Homo sapiens: one gene and its partners. The protein of the gene in region 1 interacts with the protein of each later gene in a pairwise test. Each region holds a gene or a part of one and is shown on either strand. Other genes may lie near its edges.

What was found.
Region 2: the proteins of MAL (region 1) and GRAMD1A interact in binary tests that used the Homo sapiens proteins (3 or more experiments, as listed by UniProt).
Region 3: the proteins of MAL (region 1) and CD300LG interact in binary tests that used the Homo sapiens proteins (3 or more experiments, as listed by UniProt).
Region 4: the proteins of MAL (region 1) and CD53 interact in binary tests that used the Homo sapiens proteins (3 or more experiments, as listed by UniProt).

What each region holds. Positions count from the first base shown.
Region 1 is NC_000002.12:95,042,645-95,049,769, forward strand, and holds part of MAL (myelin and lymphocyte protein), read left to right. Parts: intron 1-3,240; exon of another isoform or gene 3,241-3,503; intron 3,504-3,870; exon of another isoform or gene 3,871-4,134; intron 4,135-4,631; exon of another isoform or gene 4,632-5,314; coding exon 5,315-5,482; intron 5,483-6,936; coding exon 6,937-7,062; intron 7,063-7,125. UniProt on the Homo sapiens protein: May be involved in vesicular trafficking from the Golgi apparatus to the cell membrane. Plays a role in the maintenance of the myelin sheath, and in axon-glia and glia-glia interactions.
Region 2 is NC_000019.10:35,010,200-35,017,324, forward strand, and holds part of GRAMD1A (protein Aster-A), read left to right. Parts: intron 1-84; coding exon 85-180; intron 181-1,274; coding exon 1,275-1,355; intron 1,356-3,056; coding exon 3,057-3,169; intron 3,170-3,341; coding exon 3,342-3,492; intron 3,493-3,989; coding exon 3,990-4,188; intron 4,189-5,624; coding exon 5,625-5,768; intron 5,769-7,125. UniProt on the Homo sapiens protein: Cholesterol transporter that mediates non-vesicular transport of cholesterol from the plasma membrane (PM) to the endoplasmic reticulum (ER).
Region 3 is NC_000017.11:43,857,051-43,864,139, forward strand, and holds the end of CD300LG (CMRF35-like molecule 9 isoform 1 precursor), read left to right. Parts: intron 1-53; coding exon 54-106; intron 107-413; coding exon of another isoform or gene 414-485; exon of another isoform or gene 486-710; intron 711-739; coding exon of another isoform or gene 740-778; exon of another isoform or gene 779-1,184; intron 1,185-4,083; coding exon of another isoform or gene 4,084-4,203; intron 4,204-4,747; coding exon 4,748-4,861; 3' UTR 4,862-6,589; downstream 6,590-7,089. UniProt on the Homo sapiens protein: Receptor which may mediate L-selectin-dependent lymphocyte rollings. Binds SELL in a calcium dependent manner. Binds lymphocyte.
Region 4 is NC_000001.11:110,868,060-110,876,147, forward strand, and holds the start of CD53 (leukocyte surface antigen CD53), read left to right. Parts: upstream 1-5,088; 5' UTR 5,089-5,189; intron 5,190-6,897; exon of another isoform or gene 6,898-8,088. UniProt on the Homo sapiens protein: Structural component of specialized membrane microdomains known as tetraspanin-enriched microdomains (TERMs), which act as platforms for receptor clustering and signaling.

The DNA of each region.
Region 1 (7,125 bases):
GTCTGGCCAGTTGGCAGAAACAAAGGGGACACAGCACCGTGCCTCCAGGGTGCCAATAATGTTTTCAAAATAATTGCCTCTTTGCACTGCCACCTGGAGGCTGGGAGCCACCTGGAGTCTCCTTGATGAAAGGAAATGCTTGAACCCTCACATACTCCCTTGCTCTGGACAAATATTTGGCCAGCGGGGTCCTGAGGCCAGGCTGGAACAGATTGCTCTGTGCCCAGGAGTGCCTTAACTCCCTGGTGTGGGTGCCCTTCTTACTCTGTTTGCTCTCTGTACATTTAGTAGGTGGAGCAGGGCAGGAACCAGATTTGACTCATGGTTTACAACAAATCTCAGCTTTGCACACAGCGGGGCTGGAGGCTCACCCTCCCTGGAGCCCCACCTTCTGCTACTCCTTGACCCAAGCCCGGCTGCCCAGCCTTCAGCCTCCAAAGCCCTCACAGCTGCTTCAGCATCCTCTGAGCTTGGCATGTGCCCTTTCTGCCCTCTGGAGAGCCCCTCCCAGTCCTTTGGCCTGGTTAACCAGTTAGGTCCACCTCTCTCTCCAAGGCTCGACTGACCCTATGCACCTGTCCAGGCTGCTCTGCCCACTCGGGGCTGGTTGTCCACCTGCATGTTAAGTGGCTGCTTATGCATCTGTTTCCACTGAGCTGTCAGCCTCCTGCATGAACGACAACTTATTCCCAGGTATTGGTAGTGCTGGGCTCAGTGCCAGAAGCTTCATACTCACATCTGTAGTTTTAGCCAGTTCACACCAGCCCCCAGTGTGGGGAGACTGCTGTGAGTTGCCATTTGCAGAGAGGAAGCTGGGGCCAAGAGGCAGAATCACTTGCTGCAGCGTCCCACAGTGACTTCGGAGGACAGCTCCTCTGAGAACGGGAGTCCCCTGCCAAGGGGAGGGAGCTGGCAGGGCGCCTCTGCATTAGAATTCTCCCAGAGAAGACCGCGGCAAAGGCCTGTGCTCCAAAGGCAAGGGGCATGACTCAGCTGAGGCAACAGCTGTTTCTGTTCCACAGACACCTAGCCGGGAATGAAATCTCTCCTGACTCGGCTGTGCCTTTCCCGTATCCTCCTCTTCTTCTCAGGATTGCTCTTCACCCTCCTCCGCCCTGTCCCCCAGATGGCCCCTGTGACCCTGGGCTCTGCAGTCCTCCCTGGGCATCTCCTGGGCAGTGCTGAGCGGAAGGTCGACCGCCCCACTGCCCATCCCCTGGGAGCAAACCCCTGGCTTTCATGATGTCATCTGTGCTGAGACATCTGTGACTACCTTCACCTTCATATGTTTCTGGGACAGGCAAGGACTGGTGTAAGAGCGTCCCTAGGAACGTGGTTCCTCAGAGGCTTCTGGGTTGGAGGCTCCAGGGACATGAGACACACTCACCCAGGGCCCCCTGAATGGTGGGGTCCAAAAGGGGCACTGTGCAGCTGCAACGGTAGAGATATTCTGTGTAAGTCCCCTTGAGAGAGAATTTCTCACCTGAAGACATTATACTAAATGAAAGAAGTGAGCCACAAAAGTCCATATGTTGAATGATTCCATTCATATGAAAGTTCAAAATATGGAAGTTTGTAGAGATAGAAAGTAGATTAGTGGTTGCTTGGAATGGGGGCAGGGAAGCCACAGCTCATGGGATTTCTTTCCAAGGTGATGACAATGTTCCAAGATTGACTGTGGTGATGGACGCACGTATCTGCGAATATTCTGAAAACCAGGGAATCATACCCTTTCAATGGGGGAACTGCATGGGCTGTGAATTATAGCTCATAAAGCTGTTTAAGAAAAGAAAAAGATAATGTCTCCCCACCATCTCACTATGAAACATACTGCTATAAATATACCATGCAAAGGAAAAAAGTCGGCCTCATTTTTTAAAGGACTCACTTGCAAGGTGATGCCCCCAGAGGCTGGGTGGGGTCCTGAGATCTGTCAGGAGCTGGGGTTAAACCCATAGTGGGCTTTGTTCTATGGACAACTGTGGACAAGGTTCCCACTATAGACTGCAGGAACCTGCGAGCCAGTGTGGGGAGCATGGAATTTCCCAGGGAGCTGGAAAATAGTCTTCATCAGGTTGGTAAAAGCACACACTGGAACAGGGCAGAGTCTGGCCTGACCTCAAGGCCCTCCGCGCAGCTGCCGGAAGCTCAGAGCCCAGGCTGTGGCTGCAGCCAGCAAGGTGCACACAGGAGGCTGTGACCAGCTCTCCACACACTGACTTCCCCTCACTTTTCCTGCCATTGATTCCTCACACCAGTCACATCTTAAGCCACGTGGGAAGAATGGAGTGGAGTGAGATGACTCTGCAGACAGGAGCTGAGGACTACCTTCTCAGATTTGCCATTTCCAGCTGCCATCTGTGCATTAATTTACCTCATATGTATTTTACAGTTAATTTTTCCCAAAATAATGACATTGCAACCATAAGCATAGAAACAATGTCACTATCCGGTTTACCTTTGCCTATCCACGCTATTAGAGAACTCCAGACACCTGGCTCCACCCTGAGCCCTTCTTGCCTTCATCAGAAAAACCAAAGAGAGTAAAGGAGGAGGAAAATCGTTTCCTCACTGTGAAATTCAGTGTTCCTCGATAGCATGTGTATAGGTCACCCGTAAGCGCCTCTGGCCCACGGGGTCCCACTGGGATTCCATAACGGAGTCTCTTCCCAACCATGTGCAACCCAAGCTGCTCCTTTGGGGTTTGGTTCATAAGTGGCTCTAGTTCAGCCACACCCAGGTACCAGGAGACCAAGGCCCGTTAGCTGACTTGGACACCGATGCATGGCTGGATGGGTCTTCTCCTGGTCCCCACCAGTGAGGCAGCTGTGAGCAAGGCAGACCTCAAGCCCACCATCACCTGGTCAGGGAAAGCGCCATGTTATCCCTAACCCAATATACCTGTGTTTGTGCTGAGTGCTACAGAGAAGACGTGCAGGACTCCCTGAGACTGTGTGAACGAGGAAGCAACTTAAATTGGTCCTCCTGGGAGGGTCACGTAGCCACCAGGCAAAAGGCACTTAGGAGAGGGGTTCCCAGGCCAGGGCCTCCCTCTTCCCACTGGATGTGCCCGCTGGATCCTCCTCCTATTTCTCCATGCCACCCTCGCATGCCTCCTGAATCCAAGCCCTGCCTGTACCAATGTGCTCCTGTCCCTCCGTCAGTGCCCGTTATGGAAAAGGCCACATAATCTGTTGAATCTTAAACTCAACTGTGGATGAAATCTACACACACATCTTATTCCATGGTGGTCTGGGCATTTTTATTTAATTGATTTTGCTCCCATTTTTGTAAGATGCACAGTGCATCCCACCGGCCCTGCCACGTGCCTTCAGGCAACCTAAGATCCATCAGCAGAGGACGCTTTCTGGTCAGAGATGCCCACATCTGATTCCTTAGGGACAACTTGGTTTTAATAAATCCAAAGTCTTCATTGCACTGATTTTTCTACCCAAATGCAATTCTCTCCTGATTGCTTCTCAGTCAAGCAGCTCAGAGAACACCTGTGAAGACAGCGGTATCTCTCACCCAGCAGGTGGGCAGCAGGTGCAGGGAGGTGGGGGGGTCAAGGTGCTATGTGAATTCAAACCACAGGGGACATAGGCCTGGGAGGGCAGCCCCATCCTCAGCCCCCCAGACACTTCTGTAGTACCTTGGAGACTTTTGGCTGCAAAGGAATCTCCACATAGGCCTGGAGTGCTTCGAGCCCAGTCCTCATCCAAGTGGGGAACATGTGGATGAGGCTGAGCTGATTCTTACTGGGTGGGGGTGGCGCTGGGGGAGATGAGGAGAAGGGAAAGAGAAGTGCAGAAAGTCCCCGCTGGGGTTTGTACACGCCTGTCCACAGTGAGGAACGGAGTTTGTACGTACCCATCCGCGGTGGGGAGCGGGTTTGTATGTGTCCATCCACGGCGAGGAGCGGGGCTGGGCTACTGAGGGGTGCTACTGGCCCCCATGTCTGCTCCTCTTTGACTGTATGGGGCTCACTGACCCTGGCGACATCAACTGGGGTGTATTCTGGATAACCACGGGACTGTACTTTCCTCATGCCCATCCTCAGCCATCCAAAGAGACAAGGCTGTCCTTGGTTACTCCATTCCAACTCCAAATCTGATCATCAGAACACTTCCTGGACTTGGGAATATAAACAGTTGAATCCAGAAAAAGAAATAATGAGCAAGAGAAAGAAAGAGAGAGAAAGAGAAAGGGAGAGAGAGAGAGAAAGAGAAAGGGAGAGAGAGAGAGAAAAGAAAGAGAGAGAGAGAAAGAGAGAGAAAGAAAGAGAGAAAGAGAAAGAAAGAAAGAGAAAAAAGAAAGAAAGAAAGAAGAAAGAAAGAAAGAAAAAGAAGGAAGGAAGGAGAGGGAGGGAGGGAAGAAGAAATGAAGGAAAGAGAGAGAGAGAAAGAAAGGAAGGGCAGGGCAGGGGACTACTGACAGTGTGGTTAATTTGTTTTGCCAAATAAAGACCAAAAAGATCTGCTGGTCACTACCATTGCATAAAGGAAAGGACATTTTAATATCAAAGCAAGTAGGAGGGCTAGAATATCAGAAGAAATAGCAGCTCTTCTCATGACAATACCAAATGGCATAAATCCTTTCTCAGAATGATGAATTACTTAACTTCCACCTACCTCAGTTTCCTCATCTGGCAAACAGGTCAGCATTGCTCAGAGGGTTACTGTGAGAATCACTGAGTTATTATTTGTAAAGTGCTTAGGATAGTGCCTGGAATGTAGGTCTGATATAAGTGTTTGTTAAATAAAAAAATTAAACCCATATTTAAAAAGTTACTCAGGCCAGGTGCAGTGGCTCACGCCTGTAATCCCAACCCTTTGGGAGGCTGAGGAGGGCAGATCACCTGAGGTCAGGAGTTCAAGACCAGCCTGGCCAACATGGTGAAACCCCGTCTCTACCAAAAATAGAAAAATTAGCTGGGCATGGTGGCATGCACCTGTAATCCCAGCTACTCAGGAAGCTGAGGCATGAGAATCACTTGAACCCAGGAGGCAGAGGTTGCAGTGAGCCACACGCCACTGTACTCACGCCTGGGTGACAGAGCAAGACTCTGTCTCAAGAAAAAAAAGTTTTAAAAAGTTAATCAGGGCAAGCGTGCCGGGGATTGGGATTGAGATCCAGCACAGGGCCCTGGGGGGACTAAAGATGCATTTTTGCAGAGGAAAATGCCTGCCCTGTTCTCTTTGCCTGCTTCCTGTGTTTTTGCACTCCAGTCACCCCATGTGACCGCTGGTCGGGGGCCCTTCCTGGGCTGGGGCTCTCCTCTAGGCCAAAACTCACCCCTCCTCCTCCCCCGCAGATCTTCGGGGGCCTGGTGTGGATCCTGGTGGCCTCCTCCCTGGTGCCCTGGCCCCTGGTCCAGGGCTGGGTGATGTTCGTGTCTGTGTTCTGCTTCGTGGCCACCACCACCTTGATCATCCTGTACATAATTGGAGCCCACGGTGGAGAGACTTCCTGGGTCACCTTGGTGAGTCCAGCCCAGGGTGGCTGCTGGTTGTAGGGGGGCGCAGGAAGTACTGGTCCCTGGCCCAGTAGGATGGGCTTTTCCAGTGCCAGGTGAGACTTCTCCGTAGATGTCACCCCACCATGTTCCAAGGCTGAGCCTGCCCAGGGCTCCTGGCAGCAGAATCAGGAGAGGCAGGGGCAGAGGCAAGGTCGCCGCTGCCAACCCTCACTGGACCTGTTCTGTGTTCTCCTGCATGACTGCCTTTCCATGGATAACCAGCTGCCCAGCCCCCACACCACCTGTACCCGCCAGGTGCCTGCCTGCCCCTCCCATCACCTGCAAGGGCTGTTTTCACCTCAAGGCAGCAGGGCCCCAGAGGCCGACCAAGGTGTTGGGCTCCAGAAATTGGCCCTGGCTCTGAGGGTCAGGCCATGCTTACTGTCCAGCTCCTCAGCCACTGCCTTCCAAGCAGGGCTGCCAGAGAGCACTGGGAAACAGAAGCGGCCTTTGGTCATTATTCTGTATAAATTCTGCTTTGAGACCCATGAAAAGGTAACTTTTACATGTAGGACACTTGCCTGTTACCTGCTGTAGGGGTGGTGGGGCCATTTGGCCAAGGCTGTCACTCTCAAAAGCTCTGCTACTTAGACTTTTGAAATCACTTCCAAATCACAACTACACAAAACCCTGTTTTAGTACCTTTTTGCTTTCATTTATTACTTTATTTTGAGTTGGGGGTCTCATTCTGTCACCCAGGCTGGAGTGCAGTGGCGCAATCTCATCTCACTGCAGCCTCAACCTCCCAGGCTCAAGTGATCGTCCTGCCACAGCCTCCTGAGTAGCTGGGACTACAGGCATGTGCCACCACACCCAGCTAAGATGTATTGTTTTGTGTAGAAATGGGGATCTAACTATGTTTCCCAGGCTGGTCTCAAGTCCTGGCCTCAAGAGATCCTCCTGCACCAATCTCCCAAAGCTCTAGGATTACAGTCATGAGCCACCACGCCCAGCCCTTTTTTGCTTTTAAATATACCAGGGGCCAAAAATAAGCAATGAAACAAAACAAAACAAAACAAAACAAAACGAAAGAAACAGCATGGTCCTCCCTCACCCTGCACTGGTCAGCGAGGCCACACCCAACCTGGACTGTGGCCATGCACGACACTTCTCAGATCCAGGACCAGCTTTTCCCTGGGACACCCCAAGCTGCTGGCCCTTCCTCCACCTCTCCCTTGACCCTTCCTCAGGGGAGACCAGTGTCCCATCCCCAGCAAAGTGCTCACTCTGGCCCCACAGCAGTGAAGTGAGACTCAGCACAGCAGGGCAGGCATGGGACCTCCGTGACAAGGTTGGGAGGGGTGGGATTCAAAGGAAGTGGGGGGAGAGGCAAGGGGCGGGGGTGGAGGGGACCTCAGCTCTGCATCTGGGCCCCGTCTCTCTCTCCCCATCCCTCTGACACCCCGTCTGCCCCATAGGACGCAGCCTACCACTGCACCGCTGCCCTCTTTTACCTCAGCGCCTCAGTCCTGGAGGCCCTGGCCACCATCACGATGCAAGACGGCTTCACCTACAGGCACTACCATGAAAACATTGCTGCCGTGGTGAGTCCGGGCACCTGGGGCTGTGTCCACAGCGGGCGGCTCCGTGGCTGGCAGGGTGTGTGT
Region 2 (7,125 bases), on another chromosome or scaffold:
GCCCGCAGCGGGGCAGGGTACAGGGGCGGGGGCCCCCATGGCCAGGCCCCACCCCGCTCCTATTGACCCTCCTGCTGTCCTCAGATCTCCATCCAGCTGAAGGAAGTGACATGTCTGAAGAAGGAAAAGACGGCCAAGCTGATCCCCAACGCCATCCAGATCTGCACGGAGAGCGAGAAGGTGACGGAGGACCCGGTGACGGGACCACGCGGTCCCCCGCTCAGCAGGCCGCCTCCCCCAAACATGCAAAGCCCCATTTGTTCTGCACCCTGAGTTCTCTCCGAGCTGTCCCCTTCTCTCTGTTCTCCCGGCCCAGGCGCCCATCACCCCTGACCTGATCCCCGCACCAGCCTCTCCTCTCTTTCCCTGCAACCTGTTACCTCACACAGCTGCTCAGGAACAGCAGAAATAGTAAAACTCTTCCATGTATGTGGCACCTCAGCCGCCCCTCCCTTCGTAAGTCTCCCCGATGTTGTGTCCTGTCCCTGTCATTGTGGCCTCATGTCCGTTGGTTGCAAGATGGCTTTCTCACCAGCGGTCCAACAAGAAGGGGGACAGGTGTGGGGGACACTTCCCAGCAGACTTCTCTTTGTGTTTTGTTGGTTAAAAGTGGATCTGGCCAGGTGTAGTGGCTCATGCCTGTAACCCTAGCATTTTGGGGAGGCTGAGGCAGGAAGATTGCTTGAGCCCAGGAGGTTGAGGCTAGCCTGGGCAACATAGTGAGACCCTGTCTCTTAAAAAGCAAAAAATTAACCAGGTGTGGTGGCACGCACCTGTAGTCCCAGCTACTCACTCAGGAGGCTGAGACAGGAGGATGGCTTGAGCCCAGGAGGTTGAGGCTGCAGTGAGCCGTGATCATGCCACTGCACTCCAGCCTGGGTGACAAAGCCAGACCCTGTCTCAAAAAAAAAAAAAAAAAAAGGATCAACTGACCATTCTTAGTGGCAAAGGAGGCTGGGCAAGTTCCCTGGGCTCCCCCCATCACATCCCAGCCCCTCTGGGCTGACCCTGTCTAGAGATGCATCTGTCCCCTCCTTGGACTGGGAGCTCCAAGGACAGGGCCAGGGGTCGTCTCCCCATCCCAGTGATTCTGGAATTGTCCAGGGCAGGGCCGGGCGCAGGACAGACGTTTTGTGGAACTAATGCAGGGGTGAATTAGTGGATTCATGGGGCCAAAGATGTGGCGTCAGCGCAGATGAGGGTGGCGCTTCCCCACCTCTGTCCTGGTCGCTCCCCAACCTGCTCACACCTCTCTCTCTCTCTCTCCCTGACAGCATTTCTTCACTTCCTTTGGGGCCCGTGACCGCTGCTTCCTCCTCATCTTCCGCCTCTGGCAGAATGCACTGCTTGAAAAGGTGGGCCTGGGTGAGGCCCGGGTGGGGATGGGGGGTTTCCAGGGGGACCATGGAGCCAGGGACCCCAGAACTTGCGGAGCTGGAGGCAGCCCTGGCTCTTCTCCATGGGCACCAGGCCCAGTGCCCCTGCAGCTCCTCCCTGGGCCCCACCTGACCCCGAAGCTGAGTCTCTGGCAAAGGGACATGAATTGGTGTAAACCGTCGTAATTCTTCCCTGGGGCTGGGAATGATTTTCACCCTGAAGGACATCCAGGTTCCACTGGCAGCGGGGGAGTGTGGATAGAGGCTGGGAGGTCATCACAGGATGCCGGCTATGGCTGGTCCACAGCACCTCAGAGAGCCCCAGCCCCATCCTCCGGCTGAGCGGCACTCACGCGCTGCCTTCTCAGAGGCTCCGATGTCCCTGGAGCAGGCAGGAGTGCTGAGGGTCCCATTCAGCATCCTGAGAGAGGGACAGCGCACAGTCAGGCCCTAAGGAGGACAGGGCAGAGCCCCGGGATTCCAGCCCCATCCCCTGGGGCAAGTGATTGAACCCCATCTGTCAAATGGGGGCCATCCCCACTTCACAGCACCCAGAATTTTGCCCAGAATAAGTACTCAGTCATGTCAGCTCTTATGAGCAGAGTAGCCCAGCGGTTAGCTCCCTCGCCACCCCCTCTGCCCCCCGGCTGTAGACCAGCTCCCCTGGGGTCACATCTCAGCACTGCTACTTCCTGGCTGGACCCCAGCATGTCACCTTGCACTTCTCAGCACCATTGTCTTAAAAGGATGATGAGGTTAGCACCTACTTTCCAGATGGTTTTGAAGATACAGTGAGTTAGTACATCTGTAAAGTGGTTAGAAGAATGCACCTAGTTGACCAGGTGGCAAATGTCTGCTGCTATCATCACTTACTGTTAACTGTCATCACTGTCATTCAGCCACTCTGGCCATGGGTGGCTGAAAGCTCAAGGCTCCCGAGGACACCTGGGAAAAGATTCGGGGGGCCACGATGGCATAGGCATGGGAGACTCAGCCCTGGAGTCTGGCAGGGCTTGACCAAGTCACTTGGTGACCTTGAACACATGACTTTCCCTACATGACTTCCCCTTCCTGGGACTCCGTATGCTCTGTAAAGATGGGAACATTCATGGCTGGGCACGGTGGCTCATGCCTGTAATCCCAGCACTTTGGTAGACGAAGACGGGCGGATCGTGGTGCCCACGAGGTCAGGAGTTCGAGACCAGCCTGGCCAACATGGTGAAACCCCGTCTCTACTAAAATTGCAAAAATTAGCTGGGCGTGGTAGCACGCACCTGTAATCCCAGCTCCTTGGGAAGCTGAGGTAGGAGAATCGCTTGAACCCAGGAGGGAGAGGTTGCAGTGAGCTGAGATCACACCACTGCACTCCAGCCTGAGCGACAGAGCCAGACTCCATCTCCAAAAAACAAACAAAAAAAGATATAAAAAAAATGGGAACATTCTCTGGCCAGAGTATTGTGGGGACTTGGGAAGCAGGAAGTTTGAGTCCTGGGCGCAGGCCCTGGAGGGGCTGTAGCAGGGGATTCCCCGCTTGCTGAGGCCAGGTCTGGTGCGGGAGATCGTGGCTGCCTCCTTGTGGAAGCCAGGGGAACTGCGGAGGCCGAGGGCTGGTGGGGAATCTGGCGGGCCGGGCTCTGGCTGGGGTGAGATGGAGGCCAACCCCAGGTCCCGCCTCCCCAGACGCTGAGTCCCCGCGAGCTCTGGCACCTGGTGCATCAGTGCTACGGCTCAGAGCTGGGCCTCACCAGTGAGGATGAGGACTATGTCTCCCCCTTGCAGCTGAACGGTCTGGGGTGAGTTGGAGGTCAAAGGAGGTTGAAGGGTTCGGGGGAGAACAGGACGGTCGGCGTGCAGAGTTCCTGGAGTGCTGGGGGGCCTGAGATGGTTGTATGACGTCTGGAGGATTCAGGAGGGTGTATGGGGTCTCAAGGACACAGCAGTCCCGCTTCCTCCCCTTTCCCACAGGACCCCCAAGGAAGTGGGAGATGTGATCGCCCTGAGCGACATCACCTCCTCGGGGGCAGCTGACCGCAGCCAGGAGCCAAGCCCAGTGGGTTCGCGCCGTGGCCATGTCACGCCCAACCTTTCCCGAGCCAGCAGCGACGCAGACCATGGGGTGAGCGGTGGGTTGGAAGAGGGGTGGGATACTGATAGGAAGAGAGAGGAGGGCTGGGGGTGCAGTGGGAGAAGAACAGCCTGACAGATTTGGAGGGGAATGGATAGGGGGACAGGGGAGGCCTGGATGGAGGAACAGGACAGGGAGGGGAAGACGGACATGTGACAGGGAAAGAGAGACAGGGAAGAGAGGGGACAGACAGAAAGGATGAGAGACAGAAGGGATGGGAGATGGGTGGATAGATGAAGCAGCAGACAGACAGACGGACAGGACAGGTAAGAAAGCTTATGGCTCAGGCATCTGAGACAAGCCTGGCAGGGGCTGAGAGGGGCCCTCATCTGGGTGGCCCCAGGCTGCTCGCAGCTCAGCCGTGAGCCCTCGGTGCACACACCACCCCGGGTCTGCACAGGCTCTGGAATCCTTGTGGCCAGTGTGGACTTGGGAGCCCTGGGGCTGGGATGGAGGTGGCCAAGGCTGCATCGGGCCTTTCTCCACAGGCAGAGGAGGACAAGGAGGAGCAGGTAGACAGCCAGCCAGACGCCTCCTCCAGCCAGACAGTGACCCCGGTGGCTGAACCCCCGAGCACAGAGCCCACCCAGCCTGACGGGCCCACCACCCTGGGCCCCTTGGATCTGCTGCCCAGTGAGGAGCTATTGACAGACACAAGTAACTCCTCTTCATCCACTGGGGAGGAAGGTGAGGCAGGCGGGCCCAATTCATTCGCCTCCGGTACTTGCAAGCCTCGCTCAGTCTTAAGCAAGAGGGGATGGATTCGCCCGCAGCACTGAGAATCCAGGGGCAGGCGGGATGGCGTTCAGGCGCTGTTGCTAGAAATCTCTGTCTTTACTCTGTTTTGAAGGCAGCATGGCAGGGTGAACACAAGCACAGACTGAAGGCAGCTTGCCGCGGTTCACATCCTGGTCACACCACTTCCTGACCATGTCACGTGGGCAAATTATGTAACTTCTCTGAGCTTGCTTTCCTCCTCTGAAAATGGGGTTAACAATGATAATACCCACTTCATAGGATTGTTGTTAAGAGACTATAAATGAGGCTGGGTGTGATGGCTCACACCTGTAATCCCAGCACTTTGGGAGGCCAAGGTAGGAAGGATTGCTAGAGGCCAAGAGTTGGAGAACAGCCTGGGCAGCAAAGCAAGACCCCGTTTTGTACAAAAAAGAAAAAAAAGAAAAAACTAGGTGTGGTGGTGCACACCTATAGTACCAGCTACTTGGCAGACCAAGGCAAGAGGATCACATGAGGCCAAGAGTTTGAGACAAGCCTGGGCAACATAGTGAGACCCCTGTCTTTACAAAAAATTTAAAAATTAGCCAGGCATGGGGTCATGCACCCTATGTAGTCTCAGCTACTGGGGAGGCTGAGGCAGGAGGATCGCTTGAGCCCAGGAGTTGGAGGCTGCAGTGAGCTATGATTGCACCACTGCACTTCGGCCTGAGCAACAGAGCGAGACCCTGTCTCTAAAACGAACAAAGGGAGAGAATTAAGTGATTTCATACATTTAAAGCACTTGGGCCAGTTAGTAAGCATTGACTATTAGTATTTCTATTATCATTATTGTATTCATTTTCTCTCTCCACTAATTTTCAGCTAGCCTCTATTCTTGTCTCTTATGGGGCAGAGATGGCCTCAGCCCTGCCCCAGACCAGCCCAATGAGAGAGAGCAGCCTATTTTTCCTAGTGTCTACAGCGGACACCCTAGGGTTGGCTCTGATTGGGCCAACTTGAGAGTGTGCCTGCCCCTGAACCAATCACTGTGGTTGATCGGATAGACCTGGGCCACCCACTCACCCCTGAACCAATTGCTGTGCCCCTAGGTTGATGCTCCCAGGAGGCGTGCTATCTGGTAATGAATCCCTGTGATTTAAATCTCAGGGCCTAGGTGTGTTCTCCACCCAGAACCAAGCACAGTGGCTGTCTGTCTGGGCCTGGAGCACGTGCCCACCCTCAACCCATCCCTGAGTCACAGGAGGGCTCTGTGTCAGTGTCCAGCTGTGCTCCAGGAGGTGGGGTCCGCCCATGCACACTACAAGGCCTGGGAGTGGGGAGGCGTGGCCCGCAGAGGGAGGGAGGAGTGGAGGCAGTCATCATCCTCGGCTCTCCTCTGTCTCCAGCGGACTTGGCTGCCCTGCTTCCCGACCTCTCCGGCCGCCTCCTCATCAACTCTGTCTTCCATGTGGGCGCTGAGCGGCTCCAGCAGATGCTCTTCTCGGACTCGCCCTTCCTCCAGGGCTTCCTACAGCAGTGCAAGTTCACAGGTCAGCGGGCGCATGAAGGAGAGGCTGAGGTTACCCAGGTGCAGGGGAGGGGTGAGGAAGGGTAGCCCAGGACAGGGGAAGGCACTGCTAGCCAGTGGGGCAAGGCGAGGTGGTGAAAAGCAATGTCTGTCAGACCAGAAGCAGCTCTGCCACTTACTAGCTGGGTAGGCTTGGGCAGAGTTCTGAGATGCTCTGTGCCTCAGTTTCTCCTTCTGTATAATGGGGGTATGATAATAGTACCTGGCTTATTGGTTATCATGAGAACTAAGTGAGTTCATACTAGAAAAGTTCCTAGAGCAATACCATATAGTAAGCGTTTAATAAATACAAGTTAAGAGGCTGAGGCGGGGCTGGTGCGGTGGTTCACACCTGTAATCCCAGCACTTTGGGAGGCCGAGGTGGGCAGATCACTAGAGGTCAGGAGTGTGAGACCAGCCAGGGCAACATGGTGAAACCTCATCTCTACTAAAAATACAAAAATCAGCTAGGTGTGGTGGCACACACCTATAGTCCCAGCTACTTGGGAGGCTGAAGTGGGAGAATTGCTTGAACCTCGGAGGCGGAGGTTGCAGTGAGCTGAGATCACACTGCACTCCAGCCTGGGTGACACAGCCAAACTCTGTCTCAAAAAAACAGGGGCGGGGGGTGGGGTGCTGGGCACAGTGGCTCACGCTTATAATCCCAGCGCTTTGGGAGGCCGAGGCAGGTGGATCACCTGAGGTCAGGAGTTTGAGACCAGCCTGGCCAACATGGTGAAACCCCATCTCCACTAAAAATACAAAAATATTTTAGCCAGGCATGGTGGCGAGCACCTGTAATCCCAGCTACTCAGGAGGCTAAGGCAGGAGAATCACTTGAACTCGGGAAGCAGAGGTTGCAGTGAGCCAAGATCGTGCCGTTGCGCTCCAGCCTGGGCGACAGAGCGAGACTCTGTCTCAAAAAAAAAAAAAAAAAAGGTGGGAGGAGGGCCAAGGTGGGAAGTTCATGTCAGCCCAGAAGTTGGAGACCAGCCTGGGCAACATAATGAGACTCAGTCTTTACAAAAATAAAAAAAAAAATTAGCTGAGCATGATGCTGCCCACCCGTAATCCCAGCTACTCTGGAGGCTCAGGTGAGAGAATTGCTTGAACCCAGGAGGTGGAGGTTGCAGTGAGCCAAGATCATGCCACTGCACCTCAGCCTGGGTGACAGAGAGAGACTCCATTAAAAAAAAAAATGCTCCTGAGGCCTCCCCAGAAGCCGAGCAGATGTCGGCATCATGCTTCCTATACAGCCTGTGGAACTGTGAACCCATTAAACCTCTTTTCTTTATAAGTTACTGAGCCTCAGGTATTTATAGTAATGTAAGAATGGCCTA
Region 3 (7,089 bases), on another chromosome or scaffold:
CACTCCCGGCTACTCCTGGCTTCAAGGGGCTCCTCCTTCTACATCTCTTTCAGCTCAACAGGCCACGGAGACACAGAGGAACGAGAAGTTCTGCCTCTCACGCTTGGTAAGGACAGAGGCATATGGAAGCCCAAGCTCAGATCCCCTTGGGGCTGGAAGTCAAGATTCCTGGGCTTTGCCTCTGTGACTTCCTACCTGGTCCTCCTTGCCTGACCTAGAGGCAGCGCTTGCTCCCCACCTTGGAGGAATGTGTGTGAGCCCCAAGATCAGCCCTTCAGGGTGTGAGCCGGACACAGTGCCCATGGGGGACTCACAGGTGGGAACCTGATTTCCCGCCAGGTGCCAGGCAGGGTGGGCTCCAGGAGCCATGTGAGCATCTTCTCCAGGCGCCTTCTTTCCATCCCCCCTTTTAGAATCACAGAACATCAGAGCTGGATCCAGATGAAGCCTTTGAGATCTCTAGCCTGACTTTTCTCTCAGTTTGAAGCAAATCGCCTTTCAGAACGCCCAGGGGTCAGGGAGCTGTTAGAGATGCACTCTCCAGGGCCCCAGACCCAGCTGAACCCTCCAGGGGTGGGGTCCAGGGACTCTGGCAGTGCTACAAACTCTAGTGTGCTTTTACAAAAGATGAGACTGAGGCCCAGAGAGGGTAAAGGTCTTGCCCATGGTCACACAGCAGGTGGTGGCCCAAACAGAGAACAGGACCCAGATTTCTTGACTCCTGCTCTTCTCTTTCCAGAACTCCCTGATGTTTTCTCTGAGCCTGCCTTGGCTCTGAGACCAAGGTGGTGTGGCTGCTCTGGGACCCAGGCTGAGGGTGGTGCTCTGGGGACCAGGGGCAAGAGAATAAGGGTCCCTGTGCCCATTGTCTGGAGCTGGGAACCTGCCCCAAGGCTACTGCTGCAAGAAGAGACTGTGCCCTCCGAGGCCAGCACTCCAACGGAGGGGGCTGCAGCATCGCACTTCAGGCAACAGAAGCCCCTCCTGGCCCCTCCTCCCTCTGCTGTTTACTGAGATGCCTCCACTCCATTCCTTTAAACACAAGGGCAGGAAAGCGGAGCTACCATTGCCTTCTTTCCTGGCGCCAGTGAGGACAAAAGACTCAGGCCTGGTCACCCCAAGGAGGGTCTGGGGTGGAAATGGGACTTTGGGCTGTGGCTTAGGAAGCAGCTGTTGTTGTCTCAGGAAGCTCAACAGGGCCAAAGGTAGCAGAGGAGAGTAAGGGAAAAGTCATGGAGACACACGGATGGATGGACGGTGGGTGCCACTGGCCACCTCCAAGCCCGGCCTCCTGGCTCTGCGGGCTAGGGCCTGGGTCTCACCCCACCTAGCTCCAGAAGAGGGGCTGGGGTCCAAGGAGGCTGAGAGCGCCGGAACCAGCCACAGCTCCCATGCTACTGCCTTCTGGCAACCCTGAGAAGGGCTGCTTTGGGCTTTTTCCTGCCTGAGGCTCCTGACCCTGGCTCTGCTGAAGAGGGAGGGGACAGGAAGGGGCACAGGGCCAGCAGGCAGAGGGGCTCTAGGGGGCGGCCCCTTGTTGAGGGAAAGATGGAACAGGGCCTCCCAAGAGGGTCAGAGGCAAGAACCCTGTAAACACGATCAGGTGGGTGCTTCTGCTTTTTCTTGATTATTTCCCTTGTGGCTTCTCCATAGGATTTAGCAGAGTCTGGAGATGGAATTGAAGGGGTTTGGGGCTTTCTTTGTCCACATTCGGGTCAAAGAGGGAGGGGGATGCATTACTTATACTTTGAGAGGCCTCACAGGGGTGTGAAAACCCTGAGGGAAGTCTTAGGGGTCAGACCAGCATTTTCTTTCCCTAAGAGATCTTGCTAGAAGGACTGCCATCCATCCATTCGTCTGCCTCATCTTTTATTGAACACCTACTACGTGTCAGGGGCTTTATATATGCCAACGAATCCTCATCATTCCCATACGAGGTAGAGTTTAGTATCCCCTTCATTTTGCAGATGAAGAAATACAGGCTCAGAGAGAAAAGGGAAATTGCCCAGTGACCCAGCCTGAAAGAGGCAGAACTGGGGAGGCTGACAGGTCTATGGGGCTGGCTGCAGAGCCCTCTGCGTCCTCCACCCCGCTGCACTGAAGTACAAGGGGTTTGAGGAATGGAGCCAAGTTCGCAGCCCAAGACTCCTCCCCCAGACTCAGGAGAAAGACCCTGGGACAGCTGCAGACCCTCACTCCTGGAAATGAATAGCCTGCTAAGCTCCGATCAGAACTCAGCCCTGGCTTCCCAAGACTTCCCTCTTTCTTTATTAGGTTTATTACTAGTACCTAGAAGCAGAGCTCTGATATATATCTTGCATATTTAGCAACCCAGAAAATGCCTCCATGCTTGCTGGAACAGGGCCGATCGTCCACAGTGGAGGCAGAGGGGCAGGGGAGAGGTTGCAAATCACACCAGACTTGCGATAGTGGGCCTGGCTGCTGCCTAGGTGTGCCGTTTGGCCTCTGCACTGCGAGGCTCTTTCCTCAAACTCAGTCACCCTGGAACAGGTGACACTTCTGCAGCTGCTGGTGGTCCAGGGTCAGCAGTGGCTGGGTTAAAACCAGATTGCAAAGCTGTAAATATGGACTCATGGGTCTGATGTCAGGAGTCCTCTGGTGTAGCCCCAGGTCTGCCCTGCACCAAGGCCCCCTCTGTCCTCACCATGGGCAGGGCTAGGAGGGACAAGGGCCCTAAGTGGCAGCATTTGGGAATTGCCTTACCCCTCCCAGTGCCCTCATCCACCACCCACACTTCCCCCAAGGAATTCTGCTCTAATTCCTACCTTGTCCCCAGAAGGCTGAAGATGTCATCCCTGTGTTTCTTTTCTTTGGTATATATTTTATCTTTTTAATTTAAGGTTTTAGAGAAATGGGGTCTCACTATGTTGCCCAGGTTGGTCTCAAATTGCTGGGCTCAAGTGGTCCTCTAGCCTCAGCCTCCCAAAGTGTTGGGATTACAGGCAAGAGCCACCACACCCAGGCTTCATCTTAGCATTTCTAACAAGATTTGGCTCAAACATCTGCCTCTGCCCCCATCCACAGCAGCTAGGTATTGAGAGAAGCTGGGCCCCGGTTAGTAGACCATGGACACCGAGCCCAAGAGGAATGTGTCACACACCCTGCCCGGATGGCAGCAGGGTATAGGGAAAGAGCTTGGGTCTGCAGTCAGACAGTCTCCAGTATGAGTCCCAGCTCAGCCATGTGCCAGCTGTGTGATGTCAAGCAGGTTGCATCACCTCTCTGAGCCCCTGTTGCCATAGCTCACATAGTTGTAAATAGGAAAGAGTGAGATGATATACCCTATACATGCCCAGAAAATGGGAGCTTCTTTCTCTGGCATCAGTGCCCATTTGGCCATGGGATTCACTGTCCAGGAAACCCCAGGGCAGCCTGTGGCCTTGGGAGTCTTGGCTGGGGAGCTTGGCCGGCTCCAGCCTCTGCTCCGCCCACCTGCTAGGGCAAGGCCTGAGATGGACGGGCCTGGCGTTCCTGATCTGAGGACCCATGGGAGCAGCCAGGCCCGGGTCAGAATATGGGCTTCCCCACTGACCCTGGACTACCTGCTGTCTTCCCTGGGCCGTGGTCTCCTCATCTGATGGATAATGGATTGCTCAGACCCATCATCTCAAGAATGTTTCATGTGTCCCTTGTTATTCGACGAATCTTTGGCGTGTCCAACTTTGCTGTCTCTTGGCCTGTTACAAAGAACCTGCAGCCTGCATGATCTTTCTGCTTTAAAGGATAGAAAATAATGAAAACAAATAAGTCATTCCAGAATTTCTCATTGGTTGAGTGGTAGGATGCTATTATGAATATTATAATCCCAAAGGACAAATTCTTACCTAGTTTTACAGCTGAGGAAACTGAGCTTCAGAGAGGTGAGACAGCTTGTCCTTCCTTGGACAAGACAGGAAGGAAGGAAGTGGCAGAGGCATCCAGGAGCTTAGTATTCTCCCCTCCCGGCACCTCCCTGCCTTGCCCACCCCTCCCACGTTTCCCTCATCTTGCTTGGGCTTGGCTGGGCTAGCAGACCATCCCTGCTGCCAAGAACAGGCTGTTCTGACCAAGTCTCTGTTACAGCCACTGGGGAATGGCCGGGACCCAGAGGACGCTGTGATCAACCTTGCAGGGCCCATGGGGTCTCTCACCATCCCCGAGCCCTCTCCCAGCCTCTACACAGAGATCCAGTATCTAAGCCAAGTATGGACAGAAGGGCCCTGGGAAGGGAGGGGCTGAGGAGCCACCTTGCCTGCCTCCACTCTGACAATTAGAGGAAGTGGAAGGAGGCCTTTTCCTCAGCATCTGCTCCCCAAACCCCACACCCCCGCATCTACCCACCTTCCCCATTCACAGCCATAGGCCTAGCCCATTTCACCTGGGAAGCCAGAGCTTTTGACCTCACATCCTCTTTTTTTCCGGTCCAGAAAATTCCTGAATAGCTTGTTGGGAGTCACAGCTGACAGTGCTGTGGGCTGCACTGCCCTCAAGGCCACAACTGCGCCAGAACCCAGCCTGGGGCCTTGAGGGCACCCCGGGGGAGGGATGGATTGGGGTCATGAGAGGCCATGAATCAAAGCCTGGGAGTTCTGGGGAGTTGTTAGGTCCTGTGCCTCTGCAGATGGACGGAGGGCTGGAACTTGTGGAAAAGGCTGGGTGGACGCAGCAGCTACCTGGGGACCACCCCTCACACCTCCCACCCCTTCATCTGGGTTCTGCTCTCCAAACCCCACTGTTGTCTTTACAGACTGCGGAGGAAAAGGAAGCCCCTTCCCAGGCCCCTGAGGGGGACGTGATCTCGATGCCTCCCCTCCACACATCTGAGGAGGAGCTGGGCTTCTCGAAGTTTGTCTCAGCGTAGGGCAGGAGGCCCTCCTGGCCAGGCCAGCAGTGAAGCAGTATGGCTGGCTGGATCAGCACCGATTCCCGAAAGCTTTCCACCTCAGCCTCAGAGTCCAGCTGCCCGGACTCCAGGGCTCTCCCCACCCTCCCCAGGCTCTCCTCTTGCATGTTCCAGCCTGACCTAGAAGCGTTTGTCAGCCCTGGAGCCCAGAGCGGTGGCCTTGCTCTTCCGGCTGGAGACTGGGACATCCCTGATAGGTTCACATCCCTGGGCAGAGTACCAGGCTGCTGACCCTCAGCAGGGCCAGACAAGGCTCAGTGGATCTGGTCTGAGTTTCAATCTGCCAGGAACTCCTGGGCCTCATGCCCAGTGTCGGACCCTGCCTTCCTCCCACTCCAGACCCCACCTTGTCTTCCCTCCCTGGCGTCCTCAGACTTAGTCCCACGGTCTCCTGCATCAGCTGGTGATGAAGAGGAGCATGCTGGGGTGAGACTGGGATTCTGGCTTCTCTTTGAACCACCTGCATCCCAGCCCTTCAGGAAGCCTGTGAAAAACGTGATTCCTGGGCCCCACCAAGACCCACCAAAACCATCTCTGGGGCTTGGTGCAGGACTCTGAATTTCTAACAATGCCCAGTGACTGTCGCACTTGAGTTTGAGGGCCAGTGGGCCTGATGAACGCTCAGACCCCTCCAGCTTAGAGTCTGCATTTGGGCTGTGACGTCTCCCACCTGCCCCAATAAGATCTGCTCTGTCTGCGACACCAAGATCCAGCTGGGGACTCCCCTGAGGCCTGCCTAAGTCCAGGCCTTGGTCAGGTCAGGTGCACATTGCAGGGATAAGCCCAGGACCGGCAGAGAGTGGTTGCCTTTCCATTTGCCCTCCCTGGCCATGCCTTCTTGCCTTTGGAAAAATGATGAAGAAAACCTTGGCTCCTTCCTTGTCTGGAAAGGGTTACTTGCCTATGGGTTCTGGTGGCTAGAGAGAAAAGTAGAAAACCAGAGTGCACGTAGGTGTCTAACACAGAGGAGAGTAGGAACAGGGCGGATACCTGAAGGTGACTCCGAGTCCAGCCCCCTGGAGAAGGGGTCGGGGGTGGGGGTAAAGTAGCACAACTACTATTTTTTTTCTTTTTCCATTATTATTGTTTTTTAAGACAGAATCTCGTGCTGCTGCCCAGGCTGGAGTGCAGTGGCACGATCTGCAAACTCCGCCTCCTGGGTTCAAGTGATTCTTCTGCCTCAGCCTCCCGAGTAGCTGGGATTACAGGCACGCACCACCACACCTGGCTAATTTTTGTACTTTTAGTAGAGATGGGGTTTCACCATGTTGGCCAGGCTGGTCTTGAACTCCTGACCTCAAATGAGCCTCCTGCTTCAGTCTCCCAAATTGCCGGGATTACAGGCATGAGCCACTGTGTCTGGCCCTATTTCCTTTAAAAAGTGAAATTAAGAGTTGTTCAGTATGCAAAACTTGGAAAGATGGAGGAGAAAAAGAAAAGGAAGAAAAAAATGTCACCCATAGTCTCACCAGAGACTATCATTATTTCGTTTTGTTGTACTTCCTTCCACTCTTTTCTTCTTCACATAATTTGCCGGTGTTCTTTTTACAGAGCAATTATCTTGTATATACAACTTTGTATCCTGCCTTTTCCACCTTATCGTTCCATCACTTTATTCCAGCACTTCTCTGTGTTTTACAGACCTTTTTATAAATAAAATGTTCATCAGCTGCATATTCCATCCTATCAGTGTGTCTCAATTTATTTAACCAATAGTCTATCACTCGATATTTAATTTGCTTCCATTTTTGCTATTGTAGATAAGTGTGGGTGAAATTTGCCTGGGGGTTTATCTGCATTGGGAGATTTCTTTTCCTTTTTCTTTTTTTTTTTTCTTGGAGACAGAGTCTTGCTCTGTCGCCCAGGTTGGAGTTGAGTGATGCAATCTCAGCTCACTGCAACCTCCACCTCCCTGACTCAAGCCATTCTCCTGCCTCAACCTCCCAAGTAGCTGGGACTGCAGGCATCTGCCGCCACGCTCCGCTAATTTTCGAATTTTTAGTAGAGACGGGATTTCACCATGTTGGCCAGGTCTTGAACTCCTGACCTCAAGTGATCCGCCTGCCTCAGCCTCCCAAAGTGCTGGGATTACAGGCATGAGCCACTGCACCTGGCCGGGAGATTTCTTAAAGAAGGATTTGCGTGCATGGAAGTGCCAGGTCATAGGGAGTGAACATTTTTGAAGT
Region 4 (8,088 bases), on another chromosome or scaffold:
GAAATTAGAGATGACAGAAACAAATGGGAAACATTCCATGCTCATAAATTGGAAGAGTCAATATTGTTAAAATGCCCATACTGCCCAAAGCAATTTGCAGATACTATGCTAATCCTATCAAACTACCAACACTATTCTTCACAGGACTAGAAAAAAACTATTTTAAAATTCATATGGAGCTAAAAACAAATAGCCAAGATAATCCTAAGCAAAAAGAACAAAGCTGGAAGCATCATGTTACCTGACTTTGAACTATACTACAAGGCTATCATAACCAAAACAGCATGGTACTGATACAGAAACAGATGCATAGACCAATGGAACAGAATAGAGAGCCCAGAAATAATGCTGCACACCTACAACCATCTGATCTTCAACAAAGCTGACAAAAACAAGCAATATGGAAAGGACTCCATACTCAATAAATGGTACTGGGCTAACTGGCTATCCATATGCAGAAGATTGAAACTGGACCCCTTCCTTATACCATATACCAAAATCAACTCAAGATGGATTAAATTTTAAATCTGAAACCTAAAACTTTAAAAACCCTGGGAAATAACCTAGGAAATACCATTCTGGACAAAGGCCCTGGTAAAGACTTGATGATGAAGATGCCAAAAGCAATTGTGACAAAAACAAGAATTGATAAATAAGGCCTAATTAAACCAAAGAGCTTCTGAACAGAAAGGGAAACTATCAACAGAGTAAATAGACAGCCTGGAGCATGGGAGGAAATATCTGCAAACTATGTATCTGACAAAGGTCTAATATCCAAATCTATAAGAAGGTTAAACTAATTAACAAGCAAAAACCAAACAACTCCATTAAAAAGTGAGCAAAGGACATGAATAGACATTTGTCAAAGGAAGTCACACATGTAGCCAACAGGCATATGAAAAAATACTCAGCATCGCTAATTATTAGAAAAATGCAAATCAAAACCACAATGAGATACCATCTCACACCAGTCAAAATGCCTATTATTAAAAAGCCAAAAAATAACAGGTGTTGGCGAGGTTTCAGAGTAAAGAGAATGCTTATACGCTGTTGGTGGGAATGTAAATTAGATTAGCCAGTGTGGAAAACAGTTTGGAAATTTCTCAAAGAACATAAAACAGAACTGCCTTTTGACCCAGCAATCCCATTACTGGGTACATATCTAAAGGAATACAAATTGTTCTATCATAAAGACACACGCATGTGTATGTTCATCATAGCACTCTTTACAATAACAAAGACACGGAATCAATCTAAATGCCCATCAATGATAGACTGGATAAAGAAAATGTGGTACATATACACCATGGAATACTATGCAGTCATAAGAAAGAATGAGATGATGTTCTTTGCAGCAACATGGATGCAGGTGGAGGGCCTTATCCTAAGCAATTTAATGCAGGAAGAGAAAACCAAATATTGCATATTCTCACTTATAAGTGGGAACTCAACACTGAGTACACATGGACGCAAAGAAGGGAAAAACAGACACTAGGGCCTACTTGAGGGTGGAGCGGGGAAGGAGGGAGAGGATTAAAAAACTACCTGTTGGTCACTATACTTACCCCCTGGGTGATGAAATAATCTGTACACCAAAACCCTGTCACATGCAATTTACCTATATAATAAGCCTGCATATGTACGTTTGAACCTAAAATGAAAGTTAAGAATGATGTTCTACAGCATTTTCTTCAAAACTTTACTCTTAGAGCCCATAAGCAAAATCCAATGTACTACTAGTTAACTTTAATCTCCCATTTGAAGTTTCCAATCTTATAATTCTCACAAAATCTATGCCTCTTAAACTCTAATATCCTTATATACTTAAATAACTCTGAAATAAACTTGGAAGTTCTATCTGTATTCTCATATTTCAACAGTGATTATCTTCCAATAATAAAACAGAACTACTCACTTAGAAGGCTTTTGAAAAAGGCCTAAATGGGGGCTAAATACAAAATGTCTATGTGAGTATTTGTCTATTCAGAATGTATTTTGGCAAATACGACTGCACAGTAGTAGAGTACTCATAATTTGTATTCCCGCTATTCGTCTGGCCAAGTTCAAGTTTCCTAAACTCTCAGATTCTATTATCATCTATGATGGTGATCAATATACCCCGTATTGAGAAGACCAAGCCATGAGTCTGAGCTTCTGCTAAATGCCTTTTCTAATTTAGTTTTTTCAAAGTTTTTGAGCGTTCTTTTGGGTTATTCAATAACATGGGGTTTCCTGATATTGTCTTATTCTCTATTTGTTTTTGTTCTTGTCCCTCCAAATGAATTCTAAATATCTGATGGTCAGAAACAGAATTAATTCTCAATAAAATTTTATAGGTATGGGTATAAGTGGGCACGTTGTTCTCTACCAAACCCCTAAACCCAGGAAACAGCCACCTCTAGTTGTCCGGCACTTGGAACAACCCTTCCCAGTGAAATGATGGAAAGAGGCACATTCAAGGAAAAATGTTCTGCATTAAAATGGTCACCTATTTTGCTGTGAACAATTTGTCTTGAGATAGTCTTCCCGATATTCCTAAGATTCCCCCTTATTTATCACTTCTCTCTCTGCAGATGTTCAGTCTACCTATCTCTTTCTTCTCCTTACTCTCTCTGCCTGTCCCAAATTTCTGGTTCCCCTAACTTGCAGGCCTCACATTACCTGAAACTATTCAAATATTTATAGAACACCTCTTATGTGCCAGACCCAATACCAGGCACTAAAAATACAGTCATGAGCAAGATCACCCAACATACACAGAGTAACACAGAACCTACAGAGCTTTCAGTCTAGTGGGGAAAACAATGAAAAACAAGGAATGACAGAGGGTGGAGGAATGCCTGTGGGCAATGGGAGCAGAGAGCAGGAGTAACTGTTCCTGCCTGGAGGGCTTTCTGGTGCTATGATGGGGGATGAGTAAGGAATTAAGTGAACAGGTGAGAGGATATTCTAGAGAGAGCTCGTGAGACAGAACTAGATTGATTTGTTTAAGCAACTAAAAGGAATTCCATATCCAGTGTTACCCAGTGTGAGGAGATCTTGGGGGTGGGGCCGGGGAAGAAATAGCCGGCTGAGAGTTTTAAGCTGGGGAGTCATGTGATTAAATTTGCATTTTAGAAGGCTCTCCTCCCTTCTTCCTGAGGACAGACTGAAGAAACATCCAAGGTGGTCTTGAAGGACACTGGGATCCTGTAACACAGGTAAAAGATAAAGACTAATGTAATTTCTATGGGGTTGGAGAGAGGTGGTCTGGTTTGAGAAATATTTAGGCAAAAGCATAACTGACAGGACTTGGTGGCTGATAATAGGTGGTGGTGTGGGAGAGAGAGTAGCTTAAGAGGACACCTGGTTTCTCATGAACGTGGCTGAAAGGCCAGTCAGGCCTTTCCTGGATGGTGGACATGGTGGGAGGAGCAGGCTTGAGTGTGGGGATGCCAAGTTAATCAAACTGAAGTTGGATATTGGATTTGAGGTGCCTGGGAGAGAGTGGAGCTCAAAGGAGAGATCATGGCATCTATATAGATTTGTGAATCTTTGGAACAGACAGATAGTAATTAGAGCCATCAGAATGGGTGAGATAATTAGGAAAATATGAGTTCAGCCAGAAGCCTCTCCTCAGCCCCACCACTTCAGGGACCTGTAAGCATGGCAGCAGCTCTGAGTGAGGGTCAGTGATTCCAGCCGAGGTGCAGAGACTTTTTAATAGCATTCCCTAAAGTGTAGTTACACTGAAAAATTGTTCCCCAAGAGAAACTACACACACACACACACACACACACACACACACACCACACAGTTCCATGCTCAGATAAGTTTGGAGAAATCTATATATTATTTCCCCTGCTTAGAGAATATTAAGGACTGACAAGTTCTGCAGTAAAGACCTTTTTACCTTCATTTAATTCAGTTTTCCCCACAAGACAGCCCTGGCTGGAGATTACTCTGGATCTGAATGTCTCAGGGTGAAGGAAGCGGGAGACAGCTAGCTTTCCCAGAGGCATGCCCGCAAGTCAGCACCGCAGAGTGCATCTATCTGTTCATTTATAAGATGAAAACATTGGGGCCCAGTGATTGCTTCCAAGTTTCATAGTTAGCTAGTGATACATTTGGGTTGTCACATACTCCTTTGACCCAATCTAAGAAAATTCCAGTGATGCAGCATAGTGAAACCAGAAACACATTTTTCAAAATATATTGATCACAGTGTTTCTCAAAAGGCCTTCTCTGTGACCTTGAATTTTAATCCTACCTCTGACATGTCTTAGTTGTATGAGCTTGGGCAAATTTTCTAACCTCTTTGAGCGCCTGTTTTCTTGTATATAAATAAGGATGTAACAGTAACCAGTAGGATTATTATTAGGTGTTACCATTAATAAACTGAGGCTGACAGATTGAGACTTGCTCAAGATCTCACAGCTAAAAGAGATAAAGCTGGAACTGAAACTCAGATCTTTGGCTCCAAATGTGGTGTTTCCTGTACTAACCAAATCATTTCTACCAGTGCCCCTGGGATTATGCCTTGGGGACTCACCTTAAGACAGTCTTGCTCTCGAGACAGAGAAGTCTGCAAATGGTGTCCAATTCAAGTCTAGAGACTGGCTGAAGCCAGACAGAGGGAGTATGAGGAGGGGGCAGAGAATCTTCAGAAAGACATTCCAAAGTCTCGGGCCTAGAAAATGTTTAGAAATATTGGTTCCTGTGTTCCCCTCCAGTCTGTCTACCTGAATGGGAAACTGGTGGTGGGGCCAGGCATACTTCTTTTTGAACAAATACACAGTTAATTCTGAGATGCCACCTTGATTGAGAAGCACTGTCCTTTTCTAAGCAAAAATCATTGCCAAATTACCCTAGAATCCACCACTGCTCACAGATCTGTGCCTGAACCAACTTGGTTTTGAAGTTTTCTTTTGTTTCACAAAACTAGTTTAGGGTGGGCTGTGAGAGGAAGCTTCTAAAAAGCCACTGGGAAAGTACTAAATCTCTGAGACTAAAGAGGGCGGACTCAGCCTCACTTCCTCCTTCTTCTCATCTGGGCTTCCTGTCGTCACAGCATGATCATATTTTTTCACCCTTCACTTCTCCTTTTACACAAATAGCCCCGGATATCTGTGTTACCAGCCTTGTCTCGGCCACCTCAAGGATAATCACTAAATTCTGCCGAAAGGACTGAGGAACGGTGCCTGGAAAAGGTAAGGTTGATGACGTTTTAACTTGGCTTGCTGTCTAATGTGGGGTAGGGCGTATTCTTAGGGGTCTCCATATACCTCTCTAGTAACCATAAAATCTCCGGCAACTTCTCTTTCACAAATATTTAGTGCACAAAGTAAAACAGATTAGCAAGATCCTAGTAACATCCCCAAAGGCAATCAGGCCAGAAATACTTTTACTTAATCAGGTTCCCATTATCTAAATCTCTGAGTCGAGGCATTCACATGCCTTAATTGCTTCAGAGCTTGAATTACTCTGTGTAGTAATTCCTGATGCCTGGAGCTTTCTATGCGAGATGACATTGGGGAGATTTCCTATGTGCTCTGGTCTTCAGAAAATTGGTCTTGTGATTTTAAAGTGAGGAAAGAACCCACAGCCAGAGCTGTCTTTAGAAAGACAGCTAGAAGACACAGTTCTTTTTCATTTGAGAAAATTTCAAAAGTAAATTTAGTGACTCCCACTGTGGTTCTTCAAAGCCACTAAATAGAAAGGTGGCTAAAAATCAAAACACCAGGATGTGCTCAGTAACTGTATTTTAAAAGGTGAAAGCTAGACATCTCTAAAGGATGCATAGATTGTTGGCTTTTAAGGAGCAGGAAGCACATTGGGATCCTCAGCATTTCCCCAAATTATCCTTGGTGTACAAAACATGACCACTGATAAATGTCACATGAAATGCACGTATAAAATGCAATCCCCAAAACTTGATACTGCAGTAATTTCCAATCATGTGCTGTAACTAATGACTGAGGTTGCATGGACTCAGCAAAGTGTTAGCAGAGCTTCGGTCCTGACTCTCTGTGACCACCATCGGAAACTCTATGTAAGAGCTTTCTTCTTCCAAGACCTGTGAGAATTTCACTTGATTATGCCCTGGAGCAGAAAGGAGAAAGTTCTCTTTGATTACACCCACCCATCTAAGTATGAGGATTGGGAACAGGGCAGAGGGCTCTAGATTTCCAAGAGGGGTGGGGACGGGGAGAGGGCTCTGGATTCCCAAAACACCTCAGAGTTTATTGAGCCTTGTATTAAAAAATAAAAAGCAGTCTTTTAAATAAATTCACTTAATAATCAAGTGGTAGGTGCCTCCTGAGGCCAGGCACTGTGCTTTGGGAATTGTGGGGGAGGGAGATGAAAAGGTAGAAGGAGAATATTTGTCTAGCAAACAGTCCTACTCTTAAGGAACTCCCATGGGAGATAAGAGATATCATACTATGCGTGTGCTTTGGAAGAAAGCTGAGAAAAAGCAAACTCCCAGCTGCTGGACAAACAAAGAGGTTTTGCTTTCTCAATCTTGAGGAGAATCTGTACTATTTTGAAATTGTGGTTGAATGGGAGCAAAGACTGAACTGAAACATTATTTCCTGTGATGTTTCCTGTGTGGGCCAGTTAAGAACACTTAATTTTTAAATGAAAGGATTGGGTACCTTTATATTCATGAGGAATGATTCCAAGTTCATGCCTTCACAGCTATGGTTACCACCACCTAAGTGACCTCACCTTTGTTCACTGACAAGAGGCACAAACTGGAAAGGACAAAGTCTGTTGGTCCTTGGTTTTTTGTGCCCTCTGATTGACCTCTGACTGCACAGAGGCCCTCGGACTCTGGTTCTCCTTTCCCACTCCTACCCCATGGCCAGATATGGCACTTGGTGCTGGAGATACAGGATAACAGAAAAGATTATCATCTGAAAGGAGTTGTAGAGTTTATTATGGATGACAGTCACAGCAATATACAAATACAGTGCAATGTGCTCTTTTCTATAATAGATGGAGAACGTGCACAAACTGTAGGAGTTAGGAGTGTGCCAAAAACTGCCTAGAGAGGTGACTGGTGGGTTCACTTTCACAGAAGTATGGGTTTGCTATGGAGACATTCTAGACCAAGGGTGCTGTATATTCAAATTCAAAGAAGTGTGTACCTCCAGGCATGTTAGAAATGAGAGAAAGCAAGTGAGACTGCAGTGTAACACACCATGTTTACAGAGCCACATGAAGTGGAAAGCCCTTTCTCCTACTTGGCACCAGAAAGTGGAGGGCAAGATCGCTCACCAGGCAGGTCCTAGGTCCAGCTCTGGGTGGGGCTATGCCCACCATGTTCACACGACAGAATTGATGGGATGTGGGTTTGAAATGAGGGAGAAGAGGCAGGTTTTTGCCTCCTCAACCTAGATTTTCACTTAGAGCAGAAGGAAGGGTGGAGCTTCTTGTGAGGTTACAGCCATTGTTTTCAGCTTAGCTTCTGTTCCAGGAAGTACTGCATTGATTCAGTTATAGTGGTTTGTTCTGCGTCCCTAGATTAGTCAGCCTAGGGCACTTCTTGTACCAAGCAAGCATCCACTGTGTGTAGATCACCCTGGGCCCTAGAGACTGGGCACCTGTCCTCAGGAAGCTCCTAGGACCCATCTGCCACTGCAGGTGCAGGGCACTGAAGCAAAGTAACCCAGAGAAAACAGACAGCTATGCAGAGCAGGACTCCAGCATGGCTGCTGGGGCAGAGGAGGGAAGGATTGAGCTGGAGGTTGGGTGGTCAGTTTGAGAAGGCTGTCTGGAGGTAGGTTTTGGGAAAGAGAAAGACATGCATTTGCAAAGCCAGTGGATGACCACTCAGAGTAAAGGCCAGGAATCTCTATACTGAGAGTTAGAGGTGAGTGCTCTCTCTTCATTATCCATTTCATAAGCACACAGCAGAATTTCTACCCAAGCAATAGCATCAATATGTCATAGCTCTGACCAAGAATTATTGTAAAAGAAAATATGACACAAGCATACATTTTTATAATCATTTAAAATGAGAGTGCTATATTCCAAGAATTAGAATATTGGTACTTCAAGCGAAGTTAGAGATTATTTAGATTCAAATAAAGTATCTTAACTCAC